Linked DNA regions of Homo sapiens: all the other regions are linked to region 2. The links come from fine-mapping of genetic effects on gene expression. A gene starts in region 2. Each other region holds a variant in brackets. All regions are shown on one strand. Distances are from middle to middle. Region 1 overlaps SIL1 (SIL1 nucleotide exchange factor). Region 2 holds the start of PAIP2 (poly(A) binding protein interacting protein 2). Region 3 has its middle 18 kb from the start of SIL1.

Region 1 (11,049 bases), 300 kb before region 2:
GTTGCTTTAATGTCTGGCAAAACATTTCAAGGATCATGGAACAATCATAATTTTTCCCTTGATTATGTTAAGATTGTTTTGCATAGTTTCAGTGTGCACATTTTCACAATTCCACATAACATAAAATGAGGACTGCTGGTATATGATATGCAAATATTTCCTTCCAGTAGTTTATCTTCTGATCATCTTAACAGGGTATTTGACAAAACAAAACTTTTTAATTTTGGTGAAGTCCAATTTATCAATTTTTTTCTTTTATAAATCTTACATTTGGTGCCATGTCATAAGAACTCTTTACCTGGTCCTAGTTCCCAAAGATGTTCTATGTTTCATTCTAGAAGATTTTTTTTTTCTTTTTAGTTTCACATTTTACATTTAAATCTATGATCTATTTTGAATTAATTTTTTTTAAGGTATGAGGTTTAAGTGACAGCTCATTTTTTGCTTATGGATGCCCACTATTTGCTGAAAAGACTATTTGTCTTCCATTGAACTACTTTTGCACCTGTCAAAAATCAGTCAGTTGTATTAGTGTGGGTCTATTTCTAGGTTCTCTACTCTGTTCCATTGATCTATGATTCTTTCTCTCCACCAATACCACATTGTCTTGATTACTATAGCTACAGAGTAAGCCTTAAAATCAGGTGGTGTGTTTTCTTCCACTTATTCTTCTTTTTAAAATTCTAGCTATTCTAGTTCCTTCAACTTTCCATACAAACTTTAGAATAAGCTCATCTACAAAAAAATCCTGCTGAAATTTTGATAGGAATTGCACTAAACTTATACATTCAGAGAGAGTTAACATTTTTACTATGTTGAATGTTTCAATCCATGGACACAGTGTGTCACTCCATTTAATTAAGTCTTCTTTGATTTAACTCCATCATCATCTTTCACCCAACTTTTATACTTTTGAGCATATAGATCTTATATCTGTCTTGTTAGATTTATTCCTAAATATTTCATTTTTAGGGGAGCAACTGTAAATGGTACATATGTTTTTAATTTCAATTTCCAAATATTCTTTGTTAGTATATAGAAATACAATTGATTTGCATTGTCTGTATATCTTGTGACATTGCTGAACTCACTTATTAATTCTAGAAGACTTTTTTTTGGAGGCTCTTTGGGAGTTATACATGGACAACTGTGTCATCTGGAAAATGAGATAGTTTTATTTTTTCCTTGCCTTGCCTTACTGCATTGGCTATGACTGTGTTGAATGAGTGGTAAGAGTGAACATCCTTGGCTTGTTTCTGACCTCAGTGGCAAAGTATTCAGTCTTTCACTGTTAAGTATAATATTCCATGCAGACTTTTTGTAAATGCTTGTTATCAAGTAAGGTTTCTATTCCTAGATTTCTGAGTTATCATGAATGGGTACTGAATATGGTCAAATGCTCTTTGTGTATTAACTGACATAAGATGATGTGATTTTTCTTCTTTAGCCTACTGATATGTTGGGTTATACTGATTATTTTTTGTACACTGAACCAGCCTTGCATTCTGGTAATAAACTCCATGTGATTATATATAATGCATAATTCTTTTTACATATTGCTGGATTTGATTGGCTAAATTTTGGTGAGGATTTTTGTTTCCATGTTCGTGAGGAATGTTGCTATGTAGTTTATTTTGTACTCTGTCTGGTTCAGGTATTAGTGTGACACTGGCCTCATAAAGTAAGTTGGGAAGTGTTCCTCCCTCTTACATTTTCTGGAACAAACTGTGTAGAATTGACGCCAGTGGTTTTTAAATGTTTGGTTAATATCTCCAGTGAAACTATCTGAACCTGGAGACTTCCTTTATAGAAGGTTTTTCACTACAAATTCAAGTTTTTTTAATGGTTATAGGACTACTCGTATTATTTCATATTGGGTAAATTTGGATAATATGTGCTTATAAAACAGCTGGACTATTTCATGAAAGTTATCAAATTTATATGCATAGAGTTGTTCATAGTATTCTCTTACTGTATTTTCCTTTTAATTTCTGCAGGATCTGTAATGATATTCCTGGTTTCATTCTTGATACAGGTAATTTTTATCTTAGTGCTTTATGTGTTTGTCAGTCTTGTGGATTTTTTGTTTTTGTTTTTGTTTTGTTTTTTGTTTTTGAAACAGAGTCTCGTTCTGTTGCTCAGACTGGAGTGCAGTGGTGCAATCTTGGCTCACTGCAGCCTCTGTTTCCTGGGCTCAAGTGATTCTCCTGCCTCAGTCTCCCGAGTAGCTCGGACTACAAGCGTGCGCCACCATGCCTGGCTCATTTTTTTTACTTTTAGTAGAGAAGGGGTTTCACCATATTAGCCAGACTGGTCTCGAACTCCTGACCTCAGGTGATCTGCCCACCTCAGCCTCCCAAAGTGCTGGGATTATAGGCGTGAGCCACCGTGCCCAGCCATGTTTGTCAGTCTTGATAGAAGTTTATCACCTTTTGGTTTCACTGATTTTTCTCTACTGTTTTCATGTTTTCAATTTCATTGATTTCTGCTCTTTATTTCCTTCCTTCTGCTTGCTTTGAGCTTGTTTCGATCATCTTTTCCTAGTTTCTTGAAGTAGGACCTTCCATTATAGGTATGAGACCTTACTTCTTCTCTAATATAAGCAAATTTCCCTTCCAGCTTTAGTTGGATCCTGCAAATTTTGATAAAGTGCATTTTCATTTTTAATCAGTTCAATGTATCTTTTTTTTTTAACCTCCCCTGAGATTTCCTCTTTGACTTGACTGGAGATTTTCTTCCTATCTATGACTGGTTTCTAGTTTGATTCCATTATAATGAGAGAACATACTCTGCCTAATTTCAGTTCTTTTAAAACTGTTGAGATCTGTTTGATTACTCAGGATATACTCTATTTTGAGGAGTGTTTCATGGACACTTAAAAAGAATGTATATTCTGCTGTTGTAGAATGGAATGTTCCATAAATGTCAATTAAATTTTTCTGGTTGAAGGTGTTATTCAGCTCTTTAATACCCTTACTGATCCGCTGTCTAGTAGTTCTAGCAATTCTGAGAAAGGGATGTTGAAATCCCCAACTGTAATTGCGGATTTGTCTGTTTCTTTCTTTTAGTTCTGTTAGTTTTTGCTTCAGGTATTTTTATATACAAATAAAAGTGGTACATACACATTTAGAATTACTGTATATTTTAATGGACTGGCCCTTTTATCATTATGTAAATTGCTCTTGTTCCTAATAATTTCCTTTAATCTAAAGTCAACTTTGATATTAATATAGTAACTCCTGCTTTTTAATTAATATCTGTATGATATGCTTTCCATTCTTTTACTTTCAACCTACTGTCTTTATCATTATATTTGAATTTCTTGTAGAAAGCATATTTTTGAAATTCATTTAAAATTCATTATGAAAATCTGTTTAATTGGTATATTTAGACCAATTATAAAACATTTTACAATTATTATACATTTATGTTTTAAGGTAATATTTTTATATGTTAGAGCTTAAATACACCATTTTATTTATTTTTTTTGTTTCCTCCAGTTTTTGTTCCTGTTTCCCATTTCTCACCTTCCTGTGACAAACCAAGGTACATTTTATATAATTCCTTTTTGGATTACCTATGCTTTTGAGTGTAACTGTTTGTATAGTTTTTAATAATGATTGTTCTAAGTATTATAATATACATAAGTAACATCATAATCTACTGGTATCAATGTTTTATCACTTTGAGTGAAATGTAGAAACCTTACCTCCAATTATGTTTAATCCTTTCTTCCTCCTAATTGTCTTCAAAATTCCTCACTATACATTCAGAAACAGATCTTGTCATAATTTTTGCTTCAACTATCAAACAATTTTAAAAACTCAAAAACATATGCATGTGTGTCTTTATAACAGAACAATTTCTATTCCTTTAGGTATATACCCAGTAATGGGATTGCTGGGTCAAATGCTATTTCTGTCTTTAGGTCTTTGAGGAATTGCCACACTGTTTTCCACAATGTGGAATTAATTTACACTCCCACCAACAGTGTATAAGCATTCCTTTTTCTCTACAACCCTTGCCAGCATCTATTATTTTTTGACTTTTTAACAATAGCCATTATAGTTGGTGTGAGATGGTATCTCACTGTGGTTTTGATTTGCTTTTCTCTAATGATCAGTGATGTTGAGCTTTTTTTCATATGATTGTTGCCCACATGTATGTCTTCTTTTGAAAAGTGTCTATGTCCTTTGCCCACTTTTCTTTTAGTTGTCAAATGAACCTTTATTGAAATATTTTCCTTTGTGCTTAACTAGCTGGGCATTCCACTGCACCACTGTTGATGTCATCTATGATGTCATGAGGTGACGGCCATCAACACTGCAGCCCACAAACTGAGCAGTCCCCAGGATCTCTTTAATGGTTCTAGAGAGTTCTCTGGCTAAAGATTGGTGCCGCATCTGTCAAGTAATGTTGACAATCTCATCACAAGTGATATTTCCACTGTGTTTGATGTTTTTCCATTTCTTTCTGTCCCTTGGCAGTTCCTTGAGGGCTTTGACGATCAGGGCAGAGGCAGAAGGCACTGCCTCAATCAGGGCCTGTCTGTTCTGAATGGCCAGTTTCACTGTAATCCTCAGACCCCTCCAGTCACCGGCTGCCTTGGCAATGTCATCACCAACCTTTTTCGGAGACAGACCCAGGGGGCCAATCTTGGGGGCCAGTGCCAGATACCAGCAATGATACCTGTGCCAGCACAGACATGGCGCCCATTTCACCCTCCGTGCATCTCAGGTATACAACTTTTTTTTTTTTTTTTTTTTTTTTTGAGATGGACTCCTGCTCAGTCGCCAGGCTGGAGTGCAGCGGCGTGATCTTGGCTCACTGCAAGCTCCGCCTCCCAGGTTCACGCCATTCTCCTGCCTCAGCCTCCTGAGTAGCTGGGACTACAGGCGCCAACCGCCACGCCCGGCTAATTTTTTTTGTATTTTTAGTAGAGACGGGGTTTCACCATGTTAGCCAGAATGGTCTCTATCTTCTGACCCGTGATCCACCCGCCTTGGCCTCCCAAAGTGCTGGGATTACAGGCGAGAGCCACCACGCCCGGCCAGGCATACAACTTTGATGTCGCTGGGGTCAAACTTCAGCAGTTTGCCCAGTTTGTAATGGGGTTGTTTTTTTCTTGTAAATTTGTTCAAGTTTCTTACAGATGCTGGATATCAGACCTTTGTTGGATGCATAGTTTGCAAAAATTTTCTCCCATTCTGTAGGTTGTTTATTGATAGTTTCTTTTGCTGTGCAAAAGCTCTTTAGTTTAATTAGATCCCATTTGTTAATTTTTGCTTTTGTTGCAATTGGTTTTGGCATCTTCGTCATGAAATCTTTGCCCATGCCTATGTCCTGAATGGTATTGCCTAAGTTGTCTTCCAGGGTTTTCATAGTTTTAGGTTAAGTCTTTAATCCATCTTGAGTTCATTTTTGTATATGGTATAAGGAAAGGGTCCAGTTTCAATATTCCGTGTATGGCTAGCCAGTTATCCCAGCAACATTTATTGAATAGGGAATCCTTTCCCCATTGCTTGTTTTTGTCAGATTTGTCAAAATAGCAAACACATGGAATCAACCTAAATGCCCATCAAAGATAGACTGGGCAAAGACCATGGAATACTACGCAGCCATAAAAAAGAATGAGATCTATCCCTTCAAGAAACATGGATGGAGCTGGAGGCCATTATTCTTAACAAACTAATGCAGGAACAGAAAACCAAATACCACATGTTCTCTCTTATAAGTGGGAGTTAAATGATGATAACACACGGATACTTAGAGGGGAACAACACACACTGGGGCCTATTGGGTGGAGGATGGGAATAGGGAGGGGATCAGGAAAAATAACTGTTGGGTACTTGGGCTTAATACCTGGGTGATGAAATAATCTATACAACAAACCCCTATGACACAAGTTTATCTATATAACAAACCTGAACATGTACCCCTGAACTTAAAAGTTAAAAATTAGAAAATAAATAATAAAAACTCAAGAAGAAAAGGATAGGCTGCATTTTCCCTATTTTTTATTCATTACATTGTTCTTTCTTTATTCCTGATATTTCAAGTTTCTTTCTATTATTCTTTTTTCATTCTATTTGGAGAATATCCTTTAGTCATTCTTTCAGAGTAGGTCTGCTGGTGAGAAATTTTCTTAATTTTCCTCTCTCTAAAAGTGTCTTGACTTCCCTTTCACTCCTGAAATATATTCACGGCTATAAAATTCTGTGTGGACAGTTCATTTTTTCCCCCAGCAATTGAAAAATATTCCACATACTTCTGGCCTCTATGGTTTCAGATAAAAAATTCAATATCGCTCAATCATTGTTCCCCTATAGTTGTGTTATTTTTTCTAGTT[G/A]CTTTGAAGATTTTTCTGTCTTTAGTTTTCAGAAGTTTAACTGTGATGTATCTTGGTGTTGATTTCTTTGAGTTTATCCTGTCTGGAGTTCACCTGGATTCACTGGATTCACTTTATGAATCTGTGAGTTTATGCCTTTCACCACATTTGGGAATTTGTTAGCCCTTGTTTCTTGATTATTTTCTAGCCCCATATTCTTTCTACTCTCCATCTGGAATTCCAATGACACAAATGTTAGATCTTTTGTTACAGTTCCACAGGTCCCTAAAGCTCTGTTATTTTTTTTCTCCAATCTATCTTCTCTTTGTTGTTCAGACTGTGTAATTTTTATTTATCTGTCTTTAAGTTTACTGATTCTTTTCTCTGTCATCTCTGTTCTGCTACTGAGCCTATCTGGTGACTTTTAAAGTTTTAGTTATTATATTGTTCAGTTCTATAATTCCATTTGGTTCTTTTTTCTTATCTTCTGTTTCCTTGCTGAGACTTTGCTTCAAGGGTGCTCATAATTGCTTGCTGAAGCAATTTTATAATAGTTGTTTTAAAATTCTTGTTAGATGATTTCAACTTCTGAGTCATTTCAGTATTAGCATCTGTCTCAGTCTTCTCAGGCTGCTATAACAAAATATCATATACTGGGCAGCTTAAACAACATACATTTATTTCTCACAATTCTGGATGCTGGGGAAGTCCAAGATCAAGGAATGAGTCGACGTGGTTCCTGGTGAGGGTCCCCTTTCTGGCTTACAGATAATCACCTTCTAGCTGTGTCTTCACACGGTAGAGAGAGAGAGTACTGGTCTCTCTTATTCTTCTAAGGACATTAATCCCTCTTGAGCCTAACCCTCATGACCTCACCTAAATCTAATTACCTTCCAAAGGTCCCACCTCCAAACATCACATTGCAGGGTTAGGGCTTCAACTTATAAATTTGGGGGAGACACAAACATTCAATCCATAACAGCATCTGTTGATTGTCTAATTCAAGTTGTGATTGTCCTGGTTCTTGGTATGAAAAGTAATTTTTAATTATATCCTAGACATTTTGGGTATTAAGTTATGAAATTCCAGATCCTACTTCATCTTTTTCAGTAGGTAGACATCCTATTTAGGCTTAGTATACTGGTTCTGGCTTACTTGTGTGGGTTGTGGCTCCAACAACAATTTAGTTTTCAGAGCATTGTAGTGCTATTCTGGTCTGCTTCCTTTGTGTGCTACCCAGAGGCCAATCTAAAAACCTGGGCAGCATTCCACACTATAGTTCAGTTCCTAAACTTTTTGTTGTATTAATTCTGGTCAGTTTCTTGTATGGGTCACTGAACGGGTATGTCTAGGACTTCATATGCAAAATCCCTTTCTCTAGCTCTCCTCTCTCCCAAATCGTACCCCTACTCTCTAGTTGAGAAGGGAAACAACTTCACCTGCCACCACTGGATGCTGGCCACTGGGAGTGGAAGTCTAGGTTCCTCCCTGGGCCTCTACTGACACCACTTTGGCGGGAGAATCGAGCACTGTTTCACTGCTGCTGGCCTGAGGGTGGAAGTTCATACTTCTCACTTATTCCACTGGCCCCGCCCCAGAGAGGGAAGCAGAATGCTGCCTCACACTGTCTCACTGCCTCCAAGTTGGGGGTGGAAGTACAGACTCTTCATTCACCCCAACAGACACCATGTTATCAGGGAAAAGTAAAAAACCATGTTGGTGCTACCAGGCAGAGGACAGATATTCAAGTTCCCTGCTTAGCCTCTGCTGACACCACTCCAGCAGGATAAACAGCCTGCTACTGTCAGATGGGAGATGGAAAATCAGGGTGCACACTTGGTCTGTTGGTAATACACCAGCAGGGGAAGCAGAGAGTATCCATTGGGCAGAGGATGAAAAGTCAAGCTCTCTGCTCAGCTCCCACTGACACCATCTTGGTGGAGGAAGCAGAACACTGCCTTCTACCACTTTTTACTGCCTTCTACCACTTTTTGCTGCCAGGAGCAGACGTGAGTTCAGGCCGTCCACTTGGCTCCTGGCGACCCTGGTGGAGGAATCAGAGTACAGCTTGCTACTACCACCAAATAGCAGGCAGAAATCCAGACTCCCCACCTCAATGTCCACTGCACTGGCACTAAGTGGGGTGGGGAGATTTTCATTATCTTTGGCAGGAGTTGGACAGGTATTGTAAATAAGGTTTCTATCCTGTTAGGATGCCCTTTGCTCAATTCTTTGTCTAGAAATAGCAGGCTTTTCTTATAACTTTTTAAAATCTGCACCAGTTGACATTTTCAGGATGTGGGATTTGCCAACACTCAGTCTAAAATATATAGAGGACAAAAAGAAAATCCAAGGAACTCACTGATGTCATTCCCCAAGCTCCAAGGTCCCTAGCCAGTCTGCTGCCTTCTGACTGTGTTTTAGAGTCTTCCTACATTTGCCTTTAGTATTATGTCCAGGGTTTTTAGTTACCCTTAGCTGGGGGAATAGGGAGAAATAAGTCTATTACATCTTGCCAAGAATCAAAAGCTTAAAAAGGCCATATCTTAAAAAACAATAATTTGTAGAATACAGGTGAACAATAGCAGACATAATAAAACATAAAAGCATCAAGCAATTTGTATGGAAATAGAGGGATAAGTAGACGAGATTCAACCATAACAACCAAATCTGCTGGGAGAGACAGCTTTTCCAAGAACCAAGGAACTCCGGGAAAGACTGATTCACTTAAACCTACCAAGCTACCGATGGATACAATATAATTGATGTTCTCGTCCCCAAAAACATCCAGTTCCCAAAAACCCACTCATTTAATTAAGAGGATATGGCCGAATATCTGACAGTATTGTCTATATAAATCACAAAAGCACCATCCTGTACTAACAAGACACCACATAGGCTAGGTTTAAAGATTAATAAACAAAAATAGGATGATATCTGTAGCCAAAAGCTTGATATATGTAAGAAACTCCCCAACCAATTTCAAATCCATTTATTTGCCAATCCCAGTGCCAGCTCGATGAGCACATTGGCAGTGAGCTGAGTCAGTCCAGATAGGCTCCAAATGAAAAGCAGGAGAAGGATGCCAGGACTTAGCACCTCAGTGATGGTGCTAACAACCTAAGTTCCACATAAGTAAGGAAAGAGTATGATAGCCAGACCTCAGAGGTGTGCAGCTGGTGCAAATGAGCTGGAGCTTGGGTCTTGCATTTGGGTGCTGATATTGGGATCCCCTTGCAAGGGGAGAGGAGTATTTTTTCTTTTTTCTTTTTTCTTTTTTTTTTTTTTTTTGAGACAGAGTTTCTCTCTTGTCACCCAGGCTGGAGTGCAATGGTGCAATCTAGGCTCACTGCAACCTCCACCTCCCGGTTTCAAGTGATTCTCCCACCTCAGCCTCTGGACTATCTGGGACTACAGACACATACCATCATGCCCGGCTAATTTTTGCATTTTCAGTAGAGACGGGGTTTCACCATGTTGGCCAGGCTAGTCTCAAACTCCTGACCTCAGATGATCCACCCGCCTTGTCCTCCCAAAGTGCTGCACCCAGCCGAGAGGAGTATTTTTAATTACAAAAACCAGCAACTAAAACTTTTAAGTAATCTCTTGGTTATACATTTTGAAATACTTTTATAAATATTCATACTTTTCTACACTAATTGAATTACTGGGGTGGGGGGAAATGCCATCACCTGAGAAAAGAAAAGCCAAACACACTCCCAGGGAAAGCAAAGAGAAGAGAACAAGGTTAAGTGGGTCCTCCATCCACAGAGAAGACGCTGAATAGGAGCTGTTTAATGTTCCCATCAGTCCCACATGGAACCGACAGTGGGTGGGAAGGAGCCAAAGCCCTGGCCAGTCCCTGTCCTAGGCACCCAGGCACTCCTCTGCTGGCCTCACCTGTACCAGGCAGAAGATGTGCTTCTCCTCAGCCCCTTGGCTAATACATCTGTGGTAGGACACAATTGCGAGCATTGCCTTCCTTCACCCACTGCTGCTGCCACCAAGCCACGTGCCCTCCCACACCACATACACTCTCCGTGTAGGAGAAGTGACTTTGGTAAGATGAGTAAAGACGTGGAGACTGAGCCTGCATTTCACACTTCTTAAACAGGTAAACACCAGTTTCCTATCCCCCAAAAAGGTTCATTTTCCCAGAAATATTTAGTTCTAAAGGATCAGAACAACCTATGGCTTCTTCCAGTAATACACAAGCTGTCAAGAGGCTAATGCTGTCTCTCTAGGACATTACCTGGATTCAGGGGAAGGAGTGAAGAGGTAAATAAAGGCAAATGAGTGCCCAGCACGGTGGTTCATGCCTGTAATCCTAGCACTTTGGGAGGCCAAGGTGGGCAGATCATTTGAGGTCAGGAGTTCGAGAGCAACCTGGCCAACATGGTGAAACCCCATCTCTACTGAAAACATAAAAATTAGCTGAGTGTAGTGGCAAGCACCTGTAATCCCAGCTACTCAGGAGGCTGAGGCAGGAGAATCGCTTGAACCCAGGAGGTGGACCTTGCAGTGAGCCAAGATCGTACCACCGCACAAACAACAAGGCCATCTGGGCGACAGAGCAAGACTCCAACTCAAAAACAAAAAAAAAAAAAAACAAAAAAAAGCAAATGGGGACTGTAAGGAGAAGAGGGAGGGAGAACTTAGGTCTCTAAGGCAGCCATCAGAGAAGGTTCTTTCAAAAACTGACAGGACTCAAACAGAAATAC
Region 2 (11,049 bases):
GCCTCCTGAGTAGCTGGGACTTACAGGGGCCCACCACCTCGTCTGGCTAATTTTTTGTATTTTTAGTAGAGACAGGATTTCACCGTGTTAGCCAGGATGGTCTCGATCTCCTGACTTCGTGATCCACCCCCCTCAGCCTCCCAAAGTGCTGGGATTACAGGTGTGAGCCACTGCGCCCAGCCTATGAGGAGTTTCTTCTAAGGACCTGATCCAAAAGGGTATACACAAAGAGCAGCAGGAGTCCTGTCTTTGATTAGGACAAAATGCTTTTCAAGTTTCACTCCTTGCCCCTGCCTATCAAAAACAGGACCAATTTCAGTTGGCTCAACTTTGACAGGGTTGTTAAATCAGAAGTAGCGGCTTCTCATTGGCCATTTGGCTTTTGAGATTTAAATGGAAGAGTTTGTTTTCGTACATAATAGGAAAATTCGAAACATCACAGAGCAATTAGATCCCAGCTACTTTCGTAACTACCAACTCTACTTATATTGACTTCCTGCCTTTTTTTTTTTTTTTCTTTGAGATGGGGTCTGGCAATGAATGACACAATCATAGTTCACTGCAGCCTCGAACTCCTGGACTCAAGTGATTCACCTACCTCCACCTCTCAAGTAGCTAGGGCTACAGCCATGCACTGCCATGCCCAGCTAATTTTTGTAGGGGGTGTGTGTGTGTCTGTGTGTAGAAGATGCGGTCTTGCTATGTTGCTCAGGCTGGTCTCAAATCCATGGGCTCAAGAGATGCCCCTACCTTGGCCTCCCAATGCGCTGGGATTATAGGCATAAGTCATCATGCCTGGCACTTTTTACTTTTTTTCCTACACTTGCATAAACCCTAGTTTGTTGGTGGTGGTTTTGTTTTTAGTTTGTTTTTGAGAGGGGTTCTCGCTCTGACACCCAGGCTGGGGTGCAATGCCGTGATAGCCCACTGCAACCTCCGCCTCCCAGTTTTGAGTGACTCTCCTGCCTCAGCCTCCCCAGTAGCTGTGACTACAGGTGTGCAACCACACCTGGCTAATTTTTATTTTTGTACTTTTAGAAGAGACAGGGGTCTCATCATGTTGGCCAGGCTGGTCTCAAACTGACAAGTGATTCGCCCACCTCGGCCTCCCAAAGTGCTAGGATTACAGGCGCGAGCCAGTGTACCTGGCCCACCCCCACCTTTTTTTTTAGAGACAGCGTCACCGCCTTACCAGGTTGGGGTGCAGTGGCACACTAGTAGCTCATGGCAGCCTTGAACTCCTGGGCTCAAGCAAGCCTCCTGCCTCAGCCTACGAGTAACTGGGACTTATAAGAATGTGCCACCACACTTAGCTATTTTTTTACATTCTTTCTGAACACAGAGTTTTGGTAAGTTTCCCAGGCTGGTTTTGAACTCCTGGCCTCAAGCATTCCTTCTGCCTCGGCCTCCCAAAGTGCTGGGATTATAGGTGTGAGCCACAGAACCCAGCCTATGCCCTATTTGAATAGGGAAACCTGCTTTATGGTGTGATAGCCTGTGGAAAGGGACTGCAGTTTAAGTGATGATTGGTGTGAAGGATAGTGAGACTTTCATGATAACTCCTAGTTCATTTTCCTGATTTTGGCTGCTTCTGCTGAAACTCCAAGTGTATCTCTGGCCCATGTTATTTTAAAAGGCAAGCTTCTAGAGAGGTGAACATGGGGAGAACATGGAAACAACAACAAAAAAAGCTGAGCTGCTCCTGGCTAACATGGTGAAACCCCGTCTCTACTAAAAATACAAAAAAATTAGACGGGCGTAAAAAAAAGACTCCGTCTCAAAAAAAAAAAAAAAAAGGCTGAGCTGCACAAAGTCAGCAGGGAACGGTTTTCCCAGCTGGAAAAGAGGAATTGCTTCTGCCTTTCCAGTTATTCAGCACGTCTGTAGGCACACATGATGATTCTGCAAAAACGTTTACCTATTCTACACCTACACATTTTCCAAATCCTGCTCATGCTGCATATTCAAACTACACAAGTTTGGCTCTTTTTTTTTTTTTTTTTTTTTTTTTTTTGAGACGGAGTCTTTCTCTGTCGCCCAGGTTGGAGTGCAGTGGCGCGATCTCGGCTCACTGCAAGCTCCGCCTCCCGGGTTCACGCCATTCTCCTGCCTCAGCCTCCCGAGTATCTGGGACTACAGGCGCCCGCCACCACGCCCGGCTAATTTTTTGTATTTTTAGTAGAAACTGGGTTTCACTGTATTAGCCAGGATGGTCTCGATCTTCTGACCTCGTGATCCACCCACCTCGGCCTCCCAAAGTGCTGGGATTACAGGCATGAGCCACCGCGCCCACCCGAAGAATATTTTACTTTTTTTTTTTTTTTTGAGACGGAGTCTTGCTCTGTCACCCAGGCTGGAGTGCAGTGGCGAGATCTCAGCTCACTGCAACCTCTGCCTCCTAGATTCAAGCGATTCTCCTGCCTCAGCCTCCTGAGTAGCTAAGGTAACAGGTGCATGCCACCACACCTGGCTAATTTTTTGTATTTTTAGTAGAAACTGGGTTTCACTGTATTAGCCAGGATGGTCTCAATCTCTTGACCTCGTGATCCACCTGCCTCGGCCTCCCAAAGTGCTGAGATTACAAGCGTGAGCCACCGCGCCTGGCCAAGTTTGGCTCTTTAAGGCCAGGTGAGTTTTAAACTTCACTAAACAACTTTTTTAGGAAAACCCACCACTTACTGTCTGTGTATCCTTAGTGCCTAGATCAGTGCAGGCATAAGTAGGCATTTTAAAAGTTGAATAATACTTGATCCCCTCACCTTCTCATTCAGAGCAGGGACCTTTGCTTACCCTGCAGTGTTAGGCCCTTACTCAACCCTACATACCTACGCTAGCTAGCTACATTCTCTGCCTACCTTGATACAAAGGAGCATAGGAACCATTACTGAAGCACTATAGGAACCTATGTAAGAGTTCATTTTGGGGGGGTGTGTTTTCTTGTTTATAAATGCAATATGCAATTCAAGCTTTCCTAGAGAATTTAGACAATATTTTTAAAATTCAGAAAATATTGACTCCTTTGAAATCTGACCACCAGGAAGGCCGGGCACGGTGGCTCACGCATGTAATCCCAGCACCTTGGGGGGCCGAGGCAGGCGGATCACGAGGTCAGGAGTTCAAGCCTTGCCAACATGGTGAAACCCCGTCTCTACTAAAAATACAAAAATTAGCTGGGCATGGTGGTGCGCGCCTGCAGTCTCAGCTACTTGGGAGGCTGAGGCAGGAGAATCACTTGAACTGGGACCTGGGAAGCAGAGATTGCAGTGAGCCGAGATCGTGCCACTGCACTCCAGCCTGGCCTACAGAGCGAGACTCCATCTCAAAAAAAAAAAAAAAAAAAAAAAAAAAAAAAGAAATCTGACCACCCAGAAATACTGCTATTAACATTTTGATGACCATTCTATCAGATACTTGGCATTTATACCTACTCGTGCCTGTTTACATATAAAATTTTGAAAGATTTTACAAACATGCTGTTTTGCAACCTGCTCTTTTAAAAAGCATTGATATATTCTATATCAATGAATATACATATTTTAAATAACTATTTTAATGCATCATTATTCATTTAACCAATTTCCTGTTGATAGGCATTTTGATCTTTTGGGTTTTATAACCAGGCTATAAATATTCTTACATGTCTCTCTTTACATCTGTCCATTTGGGTAGATTCCTATATTTGGAATGTTTGGGTAAGAAGGTACATACTTTTTACATTATTGATGAGAAATGAGGGGTCTGTAGGAAGGTGGTAATTTACAGTGGGGGCCTACTCATAGCCATCCTGGGCCTTCTGATTTCTACTTCAACCTCCATCTTAAGATGGTTACTATGTGAACCAGATAGGTAAATTTTTGCAGTGTTTTAAAACTGGATCTCTCTGTTGGTCCCATTGCAGTGTCTCTCCTTACCATTAGCAAACTTGTTAGCCTTCATTATTTTGTTTTCCATGTATAGATCATCACCATCACTATCCAAGTATAATATTGCTACATTGAAGTTTATTTTGCATGTGAGCAGAGTGTCCTTATGTCTAGAGAATGCCAAGGAAATACTGGGCCCCTGACGCTTAGCCACTGTGGTGAACTCTCAGTGCGATCTGGAAATTGAGATCTTAACCCCTTTGTGTGGGAAAAACAGCATTGGCCTTTGAGTGTTTCACATGATTTATCAAATATTTTTTATTACCATTATAACCAGTTAAGTGGCTTGTGTTACTAAATAACAAATTCAATTATCTCATGTTTACCTTTTTGTTTATTTGTTTGTTTTAAGACAGAGTCTCACTCTGTCACCCAGGCTGGAATGCAATGGCATGCTCTGGGCTCACCGCAACCTCCTCCTCCCGGGTTCAAGCGATTCTCCTGCCTCAGCCTCGCGGGTAGCTGAGACTACAGGCATGTGCCACCACATCCGGCTAATTTTTGTATTTTTATTAGAGATAGGGTTTCACCATGTTGGCCAGGCTGGTCTCAAACTCCTGACCTCATGATCTGCCCGCCTCAGCCTCCCAAAGTGCTGGGATTACAGGTGTGAGCCACCGCACCTGGCCTCATGCTTACCTTTTAAGAGAGTCTGGGTTAGGCCAGGCCCTGTGGCTCACGGCTGTAATCCCAGCACCTTGGGAAGCTGAAGCGGGCAGATCATTTGAGCCCAGGAGTTCAAGACCAGCCTGGGCAATATGGCAAAACCTCATTTCTACAAAAAATTCAAAAATTAGCCAGGCATGGTGGTACACACCTGTGGTCTCAGCTACTTTGCAAGCTGAGGTTTGAGGATTGCTTGAGCCAGGGAGGTTGCGGCTGTAGTGAACCGTGATCATGCCACTGCACTCCAGCCTGGGTGATGGAAGACTGTGTCTTAAAAAGAGAGTCTGAGTCATCTCAGACTATATAAATACCTATTTTGTTATGTTCAGACTTCCTTCAGCCTCAGATTGATAGCTTATCTTCACAGTTTAGAATATAGATCTGTAAGTGCTGCCAAGGTGGTTGACCCAGGAGCTAGGGCAGAACCATCTGCATTCATTTCTTTGGGGCTTTGGACTGGCCCAGAAGAGTATTCAGTGAATGAAATAGCTCTGAAGAGGAACAACCCGGTTTCTAAATTCAAGCCTTCCCATGGAGGGAATTTTTTGTCTTAGTAAATACTACAAGCATATAGTTTTTAAAAGATTCAAATTTTTCAGGAGAAAAGGATAGTTATTTGCACCCATTTCCTAGTCGGTCATTTGCCCTCTCCAAAGGGAAGAAATTAGTTTGTGTCCCTTTTTCAAAGATAGTATCTACACATTTGAACATCCAGATTTGTAAAACACATACTCTCGGCCGGGTGCGGTGGCTCACACCTGTAATCCTAGCACTTTGAGAGGCGGAGGCGGGTGGATCACGAGGTCAGGAGATCGAGACCATCCTGGCCAACACGGTGAAACCCCTATCTCTACTAAAAGTACAAAAATTGGCCGGGTGTGCTGGCGTGCGCCTGTAGTCCCAGCTACTTGGGAGGCTGTGGCAGGAGAATCTCTTGAACCCGGGAGGCGGAGGTTGCAGTGAGCCGAGATGGCGCCACTGCACTCCAGCCTGGGCAAGAGAGCCAGACTCCGCCTCAAAAAAACAAAACAAAACAAAAAAACAAAAACATACTCTCTTCTTTACATTGCTTAGTGTCACTAGAAATATATCTTGGGGCTTGTCAACGATGACAGGAAGGAAGCATGGGTAAGAATAACTATGGGGCCAGTGCACCCAGGATCACGGACTACAAAATTCTTGAACCCGGAGGTCACACTTTTCTATCCTGTGTGGACAGGGCATTTCCTCCTTTAGCCACAAAGAAGTTGCACATGTATTTGTATTTTGCGTTTGCATCCAGCTTCAAAAAGTGTGTTTTTGTGCCTGCACATGTCTGAGTGCGGATGTTTGCATATCATTTAGTACGCCTCTGTGATTTCCCTTAGTTTATTATTTTTCTGTGTCAGGATCTTGACGTGACTCGGTGCATGTCGCTGTTTGTGTGACATTGTGTATCATTCTTGGGGTGTGTATGGGTATGTGTGTGCTATGTCATTACCTAAATATTACGTTTTTGGGGGGGTGTGTGATGTCTGTGAAAGTCCACGCCTGTGTATCTTGTCAGGGTGCTCTTCAGTCCCCAGCTGCCTCACTCATTGCATATCATCATTCTCGGAAGATGGGCGGGTGTGGGAACAGTGGTACGCCCCCATTCCTGCCTTCCAGAGAGAACGTGCGACAGCGTTCCTGCTACACCCGGCAGCCGGCCGTAGGGGCGCGCTGGAAAGGCTGCTGCGCGTGCACACGTGTGCAGCCTTGGAGACAGACTTCGGGGTCGCGCGTTCTCGCGCGCGCTCTCTAGTGGCTTCGGAGGGCAGAGCTGACAGAACAAGAGGGCGGGGTTGGCGGCGACGGAAGTGAAGTCACTTCCGGGCTGGGGTGTTTGTTTGGACTGGAGAAGGGAGGCGGCGGGCGAAGCGCACGTCGAGCGGGGGAGCGGCGCTGCCTGTGGAGATCCGCGGAGGCCGACAGGATTCGTTGGCTGCCGTCCCCGCTGCTGTGCATTGGGTGAGGGGTCCTCTCGGGCAGAGTGGCGACAGGGGTGCGGAGGTCGAGGGACAGCAAGTCGGCGACGGCAGAGGGGCCTAAAGGGTTCCCTGGGTGGTTGGCCACCGAGTCCATTGCGGCCTCCGTTGTTCATTGCCTCTTTCCACCAAGTCTGAGGGATGAGCTTGGGCCGACTTCGTCTCTGTCTTCTCCGAGACATGGCCGTCGCTTTTTTTTCATTGTCATTATTAATGATTTGGATCTCGCAGCTCTCTATCCGGGTCCTCAGTGGCGCGAGGGTTGCCGGGATAGCACTTTCTCCTGTTCCTCATTCTCCCGGTCCTTTATCCCTCCGCCGGGTACCCTTTCCCCTGCCCCCCTCCCACCGCCTCGGCAACAAAGCTTATTGTTTCTACCCACTTTACGCCTGCGCGTCGCCACGCGCAGCCCCTACTTGCTGCGCGTGCGCGCCTCAGCCGAGGCTGGGGTTTGGGGAGAGAGGGGCGGAGGGACTGGCGGGCTCTTGGCGTCTTGGGGGAACGCTGCAACCGTCGACGGGCCTGATCAGAAGATCGTCTTTCTCCCGTTTCTTCGCCATCGCTACCCCTTATTTTTGGTTGTATTGCAGCTCATGCCCTGGAAAAAAGAACCTTTGGGGTACTGGGAACCCTTACCCTAGGAGGGCGTTGAGTTAGATGAACTTTAAGGTCCTCTTACCTTTTAATAATTTTCTGTGCTTACTCTCCTCCTTCCCCACCATCGCCACCAGAAATAAATAAGGCTTGTGGTGAACTTAGGTCTTCAAAACATTTGTTGCAGCAGCCAGCAGTGATATTTTTTAGGGACTCCTAAAAGGGGTCTTACCTGCTTCCTTTTGTTTCTTTTTTCCCTGATTTGGCACCCGTATCAACTCATAAAAACCCCAAACTCTAGAAAGAATTTGGCTTCCAATTTGCCTTGGAAGGTGTAGCAGCTGACAGCCTTTGACGTTTATTTCAACGGAAAGTAGATGTTCATGTTGGGTGTGCTGGCTAATGTTGAAACGTGGTGGCATTGTTTTTTCACAGATTTCATTAGCACAGTTAGATCAGGTGTTGGTTTATATTTTCATTAAGTCGCTTTTGAAATTTCTTCTGGCGTAGGTTGTGTTTGCAATAAGTAAAAGTTCTCTACAATAATTTTTAATGAGACTCCACTATTTGCTTTTGTGATTCTGTTTCCAGTTAGTGAAAGACAGGATATTTGGGGAAAATTAGTCTGTTTATACTACTTGTCAGTTGTGAACTTGAATAAAACTTTTTCACACACACACAAAATCACAGGATAGGTAACTTGACAAGAACTATAGAACCCACTTGTGTTTCTTTAAGGGATGGAGGTTAGGGAATGGAGATTTCCTCTAATGATTCAAGGCTGTGCACGTTGCTCCTTAGGAACTCAAATTGAGGTAGGTAATTTCACCCTCTTTTGGTCAGAATGAGTTTATAGCAGGCTTTTCCTTAAATAAGCACTCTGCACTTTATTCAGGTTTATCACTTTATGACTCTAGAGTGTGATGCTCCAGTTTTAGTGAAAAACTTGAACACTTAGCACAGCAATTTGGTTGATACTGTGGGAGATTAAAGAATGTGGAAGGCAAGACCTCTGCCCCCTTGTAATCTAATAACCTTTTGTGCTTTTAAAACATTTTCTTGTAATTTACATCCTATTGTCATTCATTATCATGAAACGTGAAATGGGCAGAGCAAGTTTTTTTTTTTTTTTTTTTTTGAGATGGAGTCTCACTCTGTCGCCAGGCTGGAGTGCTGGAGTGCAGTGGCGCAATTGGCTCACTGCAACCTCCGCCTCCCCGGGTTCAAGCGATTCTCCTGCCTCCGCCTCCCTAGTAGCTGGGACTACAGGCGCTTGCCACCACGCCGGCTAATTTTTTGTATTTTTAGTAGAGACAGGGTTTCACCGTGTTAGCCAGGATGGTCTCGATCTCCTGACTTTGTGATCCGCCCCCGTCGGCCTCCCAACAGAGCAAGTTTTATCTTGCCCATTTGGGAATTAAAGAAATAGAAGCCTGAAAGATTATTTTTATTTAGCAAATATTTATATAACAATAATGCCAGGCATTGTTCTCATTGCCTTTACAAATATTAACTAATTTGATCCACAACATAGCTAGAAGGTAGGCCCTACTGTAAAATGAAGATAACAAATGAGACGTGAAGTAACTTTCCCAATGTCACAGAGCTATGATAGTCGGAATTCAAATCCAGATAGTCCAGAGATTCTATGCTCTTAACCATTATGTGGTGCTGTGTGATTTAGTGACAGGTCTAGGGTACTTTAAGGTGGCTATGTAGCATAGCTGGGATTTGAACCTACGTCTTCTGACTGTGGTCTAAGATTAAAGTTGTCCAAGTCATTGCCTTTGTGATCTAGACCACCTGTTGCACAGGTGCATGAATAGTTTGCATTTGATATAGGCTAAGGTTCAGTTCCAAAAAACTCCCTTTTTTCTTAATTTTTTCATTGTTTAGAGTGGTGCTGTCCAATGATGTAGGTACTGTGTGTGGTTATGAGCACTTGAGATGTGGCTAGTGTAAATGAAGAACTAAATTTTAATTAAATAGATCTGTGTAGCCGATGGCCACCATATTGGATGGGCACACGTTTGGAGAATTTGAATAGCCTCTGCTTCTTATATCAGTTTGTATAAATTTGGGTGGCATTTCTAATGTACTTGAGCTTTTATCAGTTAGGATGACCCATTCTTGCTCTCACCTAATTACCCTTGTTACACTACAGTTGAGATTAGGGTAGACTTTGGGATTTTCTTGTGACATTGTTTCACCTCTGTAGATTTAAGATCTCTAATTTTTACCTTGTCCCTTGGTCTAGAGACCTTTAACTGCCCTAAATATTTAATCACCGAGATAGTTAATGCCAATTGTTATGTGCTAGGTTCTCTAACTAGGTACTATTATTAATTCCCATGCAACAGATGAGGAAACCGAGACTCAGGTTAAGTAACTTGCCATGGTCACACAGTTAGTAAAGCAGCCTGGTTCCAGAGCCCATGGGTTTTTGTTGTTGTTGTTGTTGTTGTTGTTTTTGAAACGGAGTCTTGCTCTGTTGCCCAGGCTGGAGTGCAGTGGCGCGATCTCGGCTCACTGCACGCTCCACCTCCAGGGTTCATGCCATTCTTCTGCCTCAGCCTCCTGAGTAGCTGCACCCGACACCACACCTGGCTACTTTTGTTTTTGTATTTTTAATAGAGACGGGGTTTCACCGTGTTAGCCAGGATGGTCTCGATCTCCTGACCTCGTGATCCAACGGCCTTGGCCTCCCAAAGTGCTGGGATTACAGGTGTGAGCCACCGCGCCCAGCCCAGAGCCCATGTTTTTTAATCGTTACCTTACTGTGCCAAATAGTAAAACAAAAAATTCGGTGCTTTTCACAGACTTCAGAGTGGAAAACAGACCAATTGAAAAATGTTGCGATCCTCTTTAACTGCCAAAGGAAGTATGCTTAAACGTATATATGCGTAAAATACGATTAAAAAATATGCAAATAAGGTAAGGATCACAGTGGTTCAAAACAGAGTCCAAGGGAATGAGAAAAGATGGTGCCTATGGAGGTAGATTAATGAAAGAAACAGAAGAGAACTATGCTTGAATTTTTTTTTTTTTTTTTTTGAAACGGAGTCTTGCTCTGTTGCCCAGGCCTGAGTGCAGTGGCATGATCTCATTTCACTGCAAGCTCCACCTCCCGGGTTCATGCCATTCTCTTGCCTCAGCCTCCTGAGTAGCTGGGACTACAGACGCTTGCCACCATGCCTGGCTAATTTTTTGTATTTTTAGGAGAGATGGGGTTTCACCGTGTTAGCCAGGATGGTCTCAATCTCCTGACCTTGTGATCCGCCCACCTCGGCCTCCCAAAGTGCTGGGATTACAGGCGTGAGCCACCGCACCAGGCCTATATTTGAATTTTAATGAGAATTCTTAAAAGATGAAACTAGTGGAGAAAGATTGTAAAACCTAAAAGATTTCTGTATTTTAAAATTCCATAGACAATATAAAAGGACACTGCTGGAAACCAATATGTCTAAGAGGCATTTCAGGAGGGGAAAAACAGCTGAAGACACAATAAAGCCCTAAGTTGATAAATTGAAAGGGTTTGCTGACTTCCAGGCAGTAGTACTGGGAAAAAATTGCTCTTACCTATCCAAAATCTGGTGAAATATATGAATTTGTTAAAACATCTTAAGCTGTCGTCTAGAACAGGATTTTTAAATTTTTATTTATTTTTTTGAGACGGAGATTTGCTCTGTCACCAGGCCGGAGTGCAGTGGCGCAATCTTGGCTCACTGCAACCTCCGCCTCCCAGGTTCCAGTGATTCTCCTGCCTCAGCCTCCCCAGTAGCTGGGACTACAAGCATGTGCCACCACGCCCAGCTAATGTTTGTATTTTTAGAGACGGGGTTTCACCATGTTGGCCAGGA
Region 3 (11,049 bases), 120 kb before region 2:
CCTTGTGCAAACATCATAAAGTGTATTCACACAAATCTAGATGGTATAGCCCAGGGGTCCTCAACCATGGACTGGTACCAGTCCATGGCCTGTGAGAAACCGGGCCTCACAGCAGGAGGTAAGCAGCAGGTGAGCAAGCAAAGCTTCTTCTGTATTTACAGCCCCTCCCCAATTGCTCACATTACTGCCTGAGCTCCGCCTCTTGTCAGATCAGCTGCAGCATTAGATTCTCACAGGAGCACGAACCATATTGTGAACTGTGCATGTGAGGGATGTAGGTTGTGTGCTCTTTATAAGCATCTGACTAATGCCTGATGATCTGAGGGGGAACGGTTTCACCCTGAAACCATTGCTACCCCCCATACTGCCACCCTACTCCCCACATCCGTGGAAAAATTGTCTTCCATGAAACCATCCATGGAGCCAAAAAGGCTGGGGACCACTGGTATAGCCTACTACACACCTAGGCTATACAGTCTAGTCTATGCTCCTAGGCTACAAATCTGTACAGCGTGTTACTATACTGATTACTGTAGGCAATTGTAACACAATGGTAAGTATTTGCGTATCTAAACATATCTAAACAGAGGACCGGGCTCGGTGGCTCACACCTGTAATCCCAGCACTTTGGGAGACCAAGGCGGGCGGATCACCTGAGGTCAGGAACTCAAGACCAGCCTGGCCAACATGGTGAAACCCTGTCTCTACTAAAAATACAAAATTAGCCAGGTGTGGTGGCGCCTGCCTGTAATCCCAGTTACTCGGAGGCTGAGACAGGAAAATCACCTGAGCCCGGGAGGCGGAGGTTGCAGTGAGCCGAGATTACGCCACTTCACTCCAGTCTGGGTGACAGAGCGAGACTCCATCTCAAAAAAAAAAAACCAAAAATAAAAAAATTAGCCAGGCATGGTGGCACACACCTGTAATTGCAGCTACTCAGGAGGCTGAGGCACAAGAATCGCTTGAACCGGGGAGGGAGATGTTGCAGTGAGCCGAGATTGCGCCACTGCACTCCAGCCTGGGTGGCAGAGTGAGACTGTGTCTCAAAAAAAAAAAAATTAAAATTAAAAATATCTACACATAGAAAAGGTACAGTGAAACTATTGTAGTATAATCTTATGGAATGACCATCGCATATGTGATCCGTTATTGACCAAAACATCATTACATGGTGCATGACTGTAATTGAAAAGTCCACGGGTAACATGTTGACCTTCAAGCAGAGGTGGATTCGGAGCTCCAGCTTAACGTGATATACAGACTTTCAGTTCTAAAACCAGGAAAGTCCCAGGCAAACTGGGACAATTAATTACTGTAGCTCCAATGTGTAAACAGGTCTTGGTGTCTCCATTTCTTGGCTCTGCTTTCAGCTGAGTTGGATAATTCAGTCTCCGGATCTACACATAGCAAGACAGGACAGCAGCTCCAGACCCTATATTCTCTCAAGTTGGAGTCCTGAAAGAAAGGAACTAGTTTGCTTCCCTCATGACTCCAAAGAATTAGAGTGGGTCTTACTGGCTGTCATTAGTCTACTTGAGACATATGTCCACTGTTTTATTTTATCTGGTTTAGTTTTTTAAATTGAGATATAATTCACATTCCATAAAATTCATCTTTTTAAAGTATGCAATTCAGTAGTTTTTAATATATTCACAATGTTGTATGATTATCACCACTATCTAATTCCAAAACATTTCTATCACCCTAAAGAGAAACTCTAGGCCAAGTACAGTGGCTTACACCTGTAATCCCAGCATTTTGGGAGGCCAAGGCAGGCAGACAACTTGAGCCCAGGAGTTTGAGACCAGCCTGAACAACATAAGAAACCCCTTCCCTATAAAAAATACAAAAATTAGCTGGACATGGTGGCGAGTGCCTATGGTCCCAGCTACTCCAGAGGCTGAAGTGGGAGGAGTGCTTGAGCCTGGGAGGCAGAAATGGCAGTTAGCCACTGCACTCCACCCTGGGCGACAGAGCCAAACCCTGTCTCAAAAAAAAAAGAAACCCTATACTCAGTAACAGCCACTACCCATTCCCCCTCCTTCCAGTGCCTGGCTACCACTAATCTTTCTGTCTCCACAGGTTTGCCTATTCTAGATATTTCATATAAATTGAATCAAATAATATATGGCCTTTTGTGTCTGTCCTCTTTCGCTTAGCATAATGTTTATAAGGTTCATCCATGTTGTAACATGAATCAGTACTTTATTCCTTTTTATTGCTGAATAATAGCCCATTGTATGAATATAAAAAAGTTGTACATGAATGTTCATAGCAGCATTCTGATGCCAAGTGGTAGATAGTTGGGTTGCTTCCACTTTTTGACTATTATGAATAATGCTGCTATGAGCATTCATATACACTTGACCCTTGAACAACACAAGTTTGAATTGCAAGGATCCACTTATATGCAGATTTTTTTTACCAAATGCAAATTGAAAATACAGTATTCGCAGGATGTGAAACCTGAGTATATGGAGGGCTGACTTTTTGTATACTCAGGCTCTGCAGAGCCAACTGCAGGACTTGAGTTTGCATGGATTTTGGTGTACTTGGGCGTCTGGAACTAATCCTTTGCATACACTGAGTGTTGATCATACAAGGTTACCTAGAAGTGGAATTGCTGGATTGTACGGTAACTCTGTGTATGTCCCCATTCTTGAACCAATCACTGTGGCCTAAGAATAGAATGGTATGAATGATTTAAACCTAAGTCACAGGTTCTTTTTTGTTTGTTTGTTTGTTTGTTTTTTTGAGCCGGAGTCTCGCTCTGTCGCCCAGGCTGGAGTGCAGTGGCGCGATCTCTGCTCACTGCAAGCTCCGCCTCCCGGGTTCACGCCATTCTCCTGCTTCAGCCTCCCGAGTAGCTGGGACTACAGGCGCCCGCCACCGCGCCCGGCTAATTTTTTGTATTTTTAGTAGAGACGGGGTTTCATCGTGTTAGCCAGAATGGTCTCCATCTCCTGACCTCGTGATCCACCCGCCTCGGCCTCCCAACGTGCTGGAATTACAGGCGTGAGCCACCGCGCCCGGCCTTGTTTGTTTGTTTTTTAAAGACAGGGTCTCACTTTGTTGCTCAGGCTGGAGTGCAGTGGCACAATCTTGGCTCACTGCAACCTCTTCCTCCCAGGTTCAAGTGATTCTCATGCCTCAGCCACCTGAGTAGCTAGGATTACAGGCATGTACCACCACACCCAGCTAATTTTTGTATATTTAGTAGAGACAGGGTTTTGCCATGTTGGCCAGGCTAGTCTCAAACTTCTGGCCTCAAGTGATCCACCTGGCCCAGCTTCCCAAAGTGCTAGAATTACAGGTGTGAGCTACTGCACCCAGCTTACGCCACATGTTCTACTCCTGATGCTGAGGATGGAGTCAGTTTCATTAGGACCACATGGAATGAAAAGAAAATGATGGTTCACCAGGAAGAAATGGGGTACAGTTATCAGATGGAGGATGAATGGAATCTAGGCAGCAAATCTACAGATGGTCATTGCAAATTGCCATATTAATTGAATGCTCACTATGAGCCCGGCACTGTGTTAAGTACATGCATTATCTCATGTGACCTTTACGACAGCCTCATAAGGATTCTATTATTCTATTACTCCCCTACAGATGCAGAAACTGAGCTCAGAAAAGTTGAATAAGTTGTCCAAGTTTATATAGCTGAAAATTGAGTGTTTGAACCCAGGTCTGATGCAAAGTGTCAGAGAAAAACAGATCTTGAGTTAGGCTAAAATATACCTGCTAAAGCGTCTTTTGCATCATTTGCCCAATATTTTTATAATCATTGGGGAAGAGTCTGTGTAACCACAAATTTCCTTTCACACCAAGGACAAGGAAGAACAGGTTTTTATCAAGAAAAAAATCATAGTTGACATTTTTTCCCTTTAGATTTCCAAGTAAGCTTCCCAATTTTGTCAGATATCACATTATTGGCATTGAGATTAAGCAGCTATATTTCTCAGAAAGTCTCCATGCTTTTTGTCACCACTCATCTTTTTCTAACAGGCCTAGAAATTCAGCTAAATTCTGCTTGTCATGTGATTAGGAAGTGCAGAACTCCACACCATGCTCATAACCTCCTCCAGAAATGATTTACAAGAGCTCTTCTGTAGTCCTCATGATGAGGGCCTGGGGCTAGGGATCTCTGACTCCCTACTCTCTACTCCTGTGGACCAGAACCCCAATGATGTGAGATGGATGGGACAGAAGATGTGAGGCAACCAAAGAGTTGAAGAATATAAGAAGTTGCATTTCATTGCCACCACCCGCCACCAATTCCGAAATGTCAGTCCTTAGAGCATCACAGGAGAATAACCTCATATTAAACTGTATACTGTATTAAGCTTCATACTAAGCTGCAAGCGTTAGCACCACACCGACTCCTCCTTGAGAGACCCCATCCCACTACCCCTCCTCCCTAGTACACACACATCACCATCAAAGCAACTTGCATCCCAAACCCTTGAAAGATTTACTGCCAGTACTGCAGACAAATCAGTGAATACCCGGCAGTCGATTCCAAAGACAGGATGCTCATTTGCATGAGGAGTTGCATGTCATTTGCATTATATTTGCAATCCATTTGCATATCACGTCTGCCCTGTCAAAATGTACATAAATGCTTTATACTTTCACTTTTTTTATTTTCTAAAGAGGACTACGCCCCCGCATCCTGCCCAGACTGTCTGGGAAAATTACTGGTTGAGTATTCCCAGCTTAATTGTGAAGAGCCTCACGTGCCATACTGAGGCGATTTCAAACTGTGGAAGAGCCCCAAGGATGTCAGAACCTAGCTTGAGAAACTTCATTCATTCATTTATTCAACATGTCTTTATTGAACACTTACGATGTGCACTGTTGTTCTAGGTGCTGCAGATATATCTGTAAATAATGAGATGAAAATAGTTGCAGCATTAAAAGTTAAATGCTGTCATTTCAGAAAATCACTTGGCACCAACCCAATCAATACATAATACAAGTGCAAAAAAAAAAAGGCACTAAAATTTCCTGAAAGTGCTTGGTTATAAGGTCATCCGGTGTTACAGACTATGCTTATGTCGTTATTACTATTTTGTTAAGATTAATCCTGGCCGGGCATGGTGACTCAGCCTGTAATCCCAGCGCTTTGGGAGGCCAAGGTGGGAAGATTACTTGGGCTCAGAAGTTCGAGACCAGCCTAGGCAACATGGCAAAACCACGTCTCTACAAAAAATACAAAAATTAGCCAGGTGTGGCTGTGCCTGTAGTCCCAGCTACTCTGGAGACTGAGGCAGGAGGATCACTTGAGCAGGGGAGGTCAAGGCTGCAGTGAGCCATGATCCTGCTACTGCATTCCTGCCTAGGCAACAGGGCAAGACCCTGTCTCAAAAAAAAAAACAAAACAAAAGATTAATCCTGAAATTAAAACAAATAGTAAGCTCCTTATTTTTTTCTTTTCTTTTCTTTTTAAAATAGAAACAGGGCCTCACTATGTTGCCCAGGCTGGTGTCAAACTCCTGGGCTCAAGTGATCCTCCCACCTCGGCCTCCCAAAGTGTTGGGATTACAGGCGTGAGCCATTGTGTCCAGCCAGTAAACTTCTTAAAGTTTACTCAAGACACCTGAGAATGTGTCCCCAAGGGATCCAGGAACTCCAAGTTTGAGAAACACCAATTAAGGATCCATTAAACAATTTAAATAGGGAAATAGCCTGGGTTTACATCTTAGATCACTCTGCAGCCATGTGGAGGGAGCATTGGAAGGGGTGGAAGGCCAGAGGCAGATAAACCAGTAAAAGGCTTCAATAATCTAGGTGTGACTCAGATGTGGGACTGTCCACACTGTCAGCCTCATAAATCCTGTGGCCCCTTCACTGATGTCCATCTGAAATCAAGTCACACCACACACTGGATGGCTTCAGAAGTTTTCAGTGAAAATTTGTACAGTCATGGGGGGTTCATAACATACATTGTTTCAATCGAAAATTCAGCTTTGAGGCAGTCGCAGTGGTTCATGCCTGTAAGCCCAGCACTTTGGGAGACTGAGGCAGGCGGATCACTTGAGGTCAGGAGTTCGAGACAAGCCTGGCCAACATGATGAAACCCTGTCTCTACAATAGGACAATATGAGGGGTGGTCTCCTCCCTTACAGGGAGGCAGAGGTTGCAGTGAGCCAAGATCACGCCACTGCACTCCAGCCTGGGCAACAGAGTGAGACTCCAACTCAAAAAAAAAAAAAAGAAAGAAACACGGTTAGAATGGATTGCCTGGTTTAGATGCTCAGAGGTGCCCAGACAGAGTCTGGTTCAAAACCCAGGGTGATACCAACACATAAAGAGAAGAAGGGTAGTGAAGGGAAGCCCAAGGGGAGGACATGATGAGCGGGGTAGAAGGTATAGCAGAAACCAAGAGAAGAGTTTCAAGAAAGAAGGAGCCAGCAATATAAAACTCCACAGAGAGGTCCAGTATGAGGAAAACTGGAGAGAAGTCATTGGATCTAGCAATTAATGTGACTTTCTAAGAACAGTTTTGATGAGGTCTCATGTGAGACACTCTTTTTTTTTTTTTTTTTTTTTTTGAGAC[A/G]GAGTCTCACTCTGTCGCCCAGGCTGGAGAGTGCAGTGGGGAGATCTCGGCTCACTGCAAGCTTGCCTCCTGGGTTCATGCCATTCTCCTGCTTCAGCCTCCTGAGTAGCTGAGACTACGGGTGCCCGCCACCATGTCTGGCTAATTTTTTGTATTTTTTAGGAGAGACGGGGTTTCATGGTGTTAGCCAGGATGGTCTCAATCTCCTGACCTCATGACCCACCCGCCTTGGTCTCCCAAAGTGCTGGGATTACAGGCGTGAGCCACCATGCCCAGCCAGAGACACTGTCGATTACCAACCCAAAAGCCATTTTCCCACTCTTCTTCCTTACTTGCCAAGACCAGCTCGGTTGTGGAGACCATAACCCAGCAGCACTAGAGGAATTAAAGACACACACACAGAAATATAGCGTGTGGAGCTGGGCACGGTGGCTCACGCCTGTAATCCCAGCACTTTGGGAGGCCAAGGTGGGTGGATCACGAGGTCAGGAGATTGAGACCATCCTGGTTAACATGGTGAAACCCTGTCTCTACTAAAAATACAAAAATTAGCCAGGCGTGGTGGCAGGCACCTGTAGTCCAGCTACTCAGGAGGCTGAGGCAGGAGAATGGTGTGAACCCAGGAGGTGGAGCTTGCAGTGAGCTGAGATCACACCACTGCACTCCAGCCTGGGCGAAAGTGCGAGACTCCATCTCAAAAAAAAAAAAAAAAAAAAAGAAAAAGAAATATAGCGTGTGGAGTGGGAAACCAGCGGTCTCACAGCCTTCAGAGCTGAGATCCTCAAACAGAGATTTACCCACATATTTATTGACAGCGATCCAGTGATAAGCATTGTTTCTGTAGATTGTAGATTAACTAAAATATTCCTTACGGGAAATGAAGGGATGGGCCGAAATAAAGGGATGGGCTCTGGCTAGTTATCTGCAGCAGGAACATGTCCTTAAGGCACAGATCGTTCATGCTATTGTTTGTGGTTTAAAAACACCTTAAGTGGTTTTCTGTCCTGGGTGGGCCAGGTGTTCCTTGCCCTCATTCTGGTAAACCCACAACCTTCCAGTGTGGGTGTCATGGCCATCACGAGCATATCACAGTGCTACAGAGATTTTGTTTATGGCCGGTTTGGGGGCCAGTTTATGGCCAGATTTGGGGGCCTGTTCCCAACACTTACTGGCAGGGACTGCCTCACATTATAAGGCCTCAAAACTGCTAGATACTTTGCCAACACCCCTCCCCCCACCTCCTTTAAACCTAGGGGTGGACATGTGACCCAGTTCTGGATAATGGAACTTAGGAGGAAGTTTTCTGGAAGATTCTGCAAAGGATTTTCCTCCCTAATGCAATAAATATGCTTAGGGAGAAATCTTTAATTCCTTCTTTTTTTTCTTTTTTTGAGATGGAGTCTCCCTCTGTCACCCAGGCTGGAGTCCAGTGGCATGATCTTGACTCACTGCAACCTCTACCTCCCAGGTTCAAGTGATTCTCATGCCTCAGCCTCCCAAGTAGCTGGGATTACAGGCATGCACCATGATACCCAGCTAATTTTTGTATTTTTAGTAGAGACGGGGTTTCACCATGTTGGCCAGGCTGGTCTCAAACTCCTGACCTCAAGTGATCTGCCCGCCTCAGTCTCCCAACTGTGCTGGGATTACAGGCGTGAGACACCATTGCTGGCCATCCCTTGCTTTTTTCTGCCTTGGGAGTTGCCACGTGAGCTCATGCTATTCAGAGCTGTGACAGCCATCTTAGGACTATGAGAAATAAGCCCAAGAATGGAGCAAATACTTTGAGGACAGTGAAGAGGAAAATGAGAAAAGCCTGGCTATTTGATGACATTACTAATGGCTGAATTAACCAAACCTGGACCCACCTATCTCTGGGTTTCTTGTTATATGAGATAAATAAATGTCCTTACTACTTAATTCACTGTTGGTCAATTATTCCATTATTTACAACCACAATACATGGTGGCCAGAATTAGTTATTGAGGAAGGAACGAAAAACAAGAAAGTAAAGATACTAAGATATTCTCCAGTGGTTTCTAAATGCCAGTCAAAAAACCACCTGCATTAAAATCACATGGGGCTAGGCGCAATGGTGATAAGTTTACATGCCTGTAATGCTAACACTGAGAGGGTGAGGCAGGAGGATTGCTTGAATCCAGGGGTTCGAGACCAGCCTGAGCAAAAAAGGGAGACCCTGTCTCTACAAAAAATAAATAAAAATTTAAAAAACTTAGCCAGGTGTGTTGGCGTGTGCCTGTGGTCCCAGCTACCTGGGAGGCTGAGATGGAAGGATCACTTGAGCCCAGGAAGTTGAGGCTGCAGTGAGCCGTGATCGCGCCATTGCACTCCAGCCTGGGCAACAGAGCAAGACCATGTGTCAAAAAAAAAAAAAAAGAAAAATTACATGGGAGCTTCTTTATGTCCTTTATTCTGATAATATTCTGATTCAGTAAATTCAGCACAGAGCCCAGGGATCTTCCTCTTTAATAAGGGCCTTAACCAGTACACCATTTTGGAAAATCATTGTCACTTTTTTTTGTTTGTTTGTTTGAGACAGAGAATCTCGCTCTGTCACCCAGGCTGGAGTGCAATGGTGCAGTCTCGGCTCACTGCAACCTCCGCCTCCCGGGTTCAAACGATTCTCCTGCCTCAGCCTCCCAAGTAGCTGGGACTACAGGCGCCTGCCACCACACCCAGCTAATTTTTTTGTTGTATTTTTAGTAGAAACGAGGTTTCATTATGTTGGCCAGGCTGGTCTCAAAATCCTGACCTCGTGATCCCCCTGCCTCGGCCTCCCAAAGTGCTGGGATTACAGGCCATGAGCCACCGTGCCCAGACTTTGTTTTTTGGGTTTGTTTGTTTTTTTTTAATTTTTTTTTTAGATGGAGTCTCGCTCTTGTTGCCCAGACTGGAGTGCAATGGCACGATCTCCACCTCCCAGGTTCAAGTGATTCTCCTGCCTCAGCCTCCCGAGTAGCTGGGATTACAGGCACCTGCCACCATGCCCAGCTTTTTATTTATTTATTTATTTATTTATTTATTTATTTTATTTTTATTTTTAGTAGAGAGGGGGTTTCACCATGTTGGCCAGGCTGGTCTTCAGCTCCTGACCTCAGGTGATCCACCTGTTTTGGCCTCCCAAAGTGCTGGGATTACAGGCATGAGCCACCATGCCCAGCCTTTTGTTACTTTTTTTTTTTTTTTTTGAGACAGGGTTTTGCTTTGTTGCCTGGACTGCAGTGTAGTGATTCAATCATAGCTTACTGCTGTCTTGAACTCCTGGGTTTAAGCAATTATCCCACTTTAACCTCCCGAGTAGCTAGGACTACAGGTACACACAACCATGTTCAGGTAATTTAAGAAAAAAACTTTTTTTTTTTTTGTAAAGATGGCAGTCTCACTCTGTTGTCTCACTGTGATGGAGACTCTGAGTCTCCAACTCCTGGCCTCAAGTGATCCTCCCACCTCGGCCTCCCAAAGGGCTGGGATTACAGGTGTGAGCCACTGCATCCAGCCTCACTTTCTTATAAAACTAAACTTACACCTATCCTATGAAGGGCAAATCCACTCTTAGATATTTTACCCAAGAAAAATAAAAACATATGTCCACAAAAAGACATGCATGAGAATGTCCATAACAACTTTTTAAAAATATAGATAGGAGTCTTGCTTTGATGCACATGCTGGTCTCAAACACCTGGCTTCAAGCAATCCTCCCACTTCAGCCTCTCAAGGTGCAGGGATTACAGGTGTGAGCCACCCTGTCCAGCCCATAGCAACTTTATTTACAACAGCTAAAACTGGACACAACCTCAAATGATCGTAACAGGAGGACAAAACAAATTGTACACAGGGGACAATCTATTATAAGGATTACCAGCCAGATGTGGTGGCTCATGCCTGTAATCCCAGCAGTTAGGAAGTCTGAGGCAGGAGGATCATTTGAGGCCATGAGCCTGAGACCAGCCCTGACTCTACAAAAAAAATTTTAAATAGACAGGTGTGGTGGCACACAACTGTAGTCCTAGCTACTCAGGAGGCTGAGGTGAGAGGATTGGTTGAGCCCAAGAGTTCAAGGCTGCAGTGAGCTATGATTGTGCCACTGCACTCATTTGAGCAACAGAGCAAGACCCTGTCTCTTAAAAACAAAACAAAACAAAACAAAAAGCCAGGCACAGTGGCTCACATCTGTAATCCCAACACTTTGGGAGGCCGAGGCAGGCAGATCCCGAGGGCAAGAGATCGAGACCATCCTGGCTAACATGGTGAAACACTGTCTCTACTAAAAATACAAAAATTAGCTGGATGTGGTGGCGGGCGCCTGTAGTCCCAGCTACTCAGGAGGCTGAGGCAGGAGAATCGTTTGAGCCTGGGAGGCAAAGGTTGCAGTGAGCCGAGATCTCACCACTGCACTCTGGTCTGGCGACAGAGCGGGACTCCGTCTCAAAAAAAAAAAGAAAGAAAGAAAATTAGAAAGGTAC

The links.
Region 1: its variant is fine-mapped to the expression of PAIP2 in whole blood (INTERVAL, PIP above 0.99).
Region 3: its variant is fine-mapped to the expression of PAIP2 in whole blood (INTERVAL, PIP above 0.99).

Annotation. Positions count from the first base shown.
Region 1 is chr5:139,030,897-139,041,945 of GRCh38, forward strand. All of the region lies in intron 5 of SIL1 (SIL1 nucleotide exchange factor), which reads right to left. It also overlaps the pseudogene RPL12P21. Among named protein-coding and RNA genes, the nearest start is that of LRRTM2, 160 kb to the left of the region's middle. The variant G/A (reference allele first, on the strand shown) is at 6,350.
Region 2 is chr5:139,335,403-139,346,451 of GRCh38, forward strand. PAIP2 (poly(A) binding protein interacting protein 2) reads left to right here and starts at 6,452. Exons shown (of 4, transcript NM_016480.5): 1 at 6,452-6,578.
Region 3 is chr5:139,210,726-139,221,774 of GRCh38, forward strand. It overlaps the pseudogene RNU6-572P. Among named protein-coding and RNA genes, the nearest start is that of SIL1, 18 kb to the left of the region's middle. The variant A/G (reference allele first, on the strand shown) is at 6,566.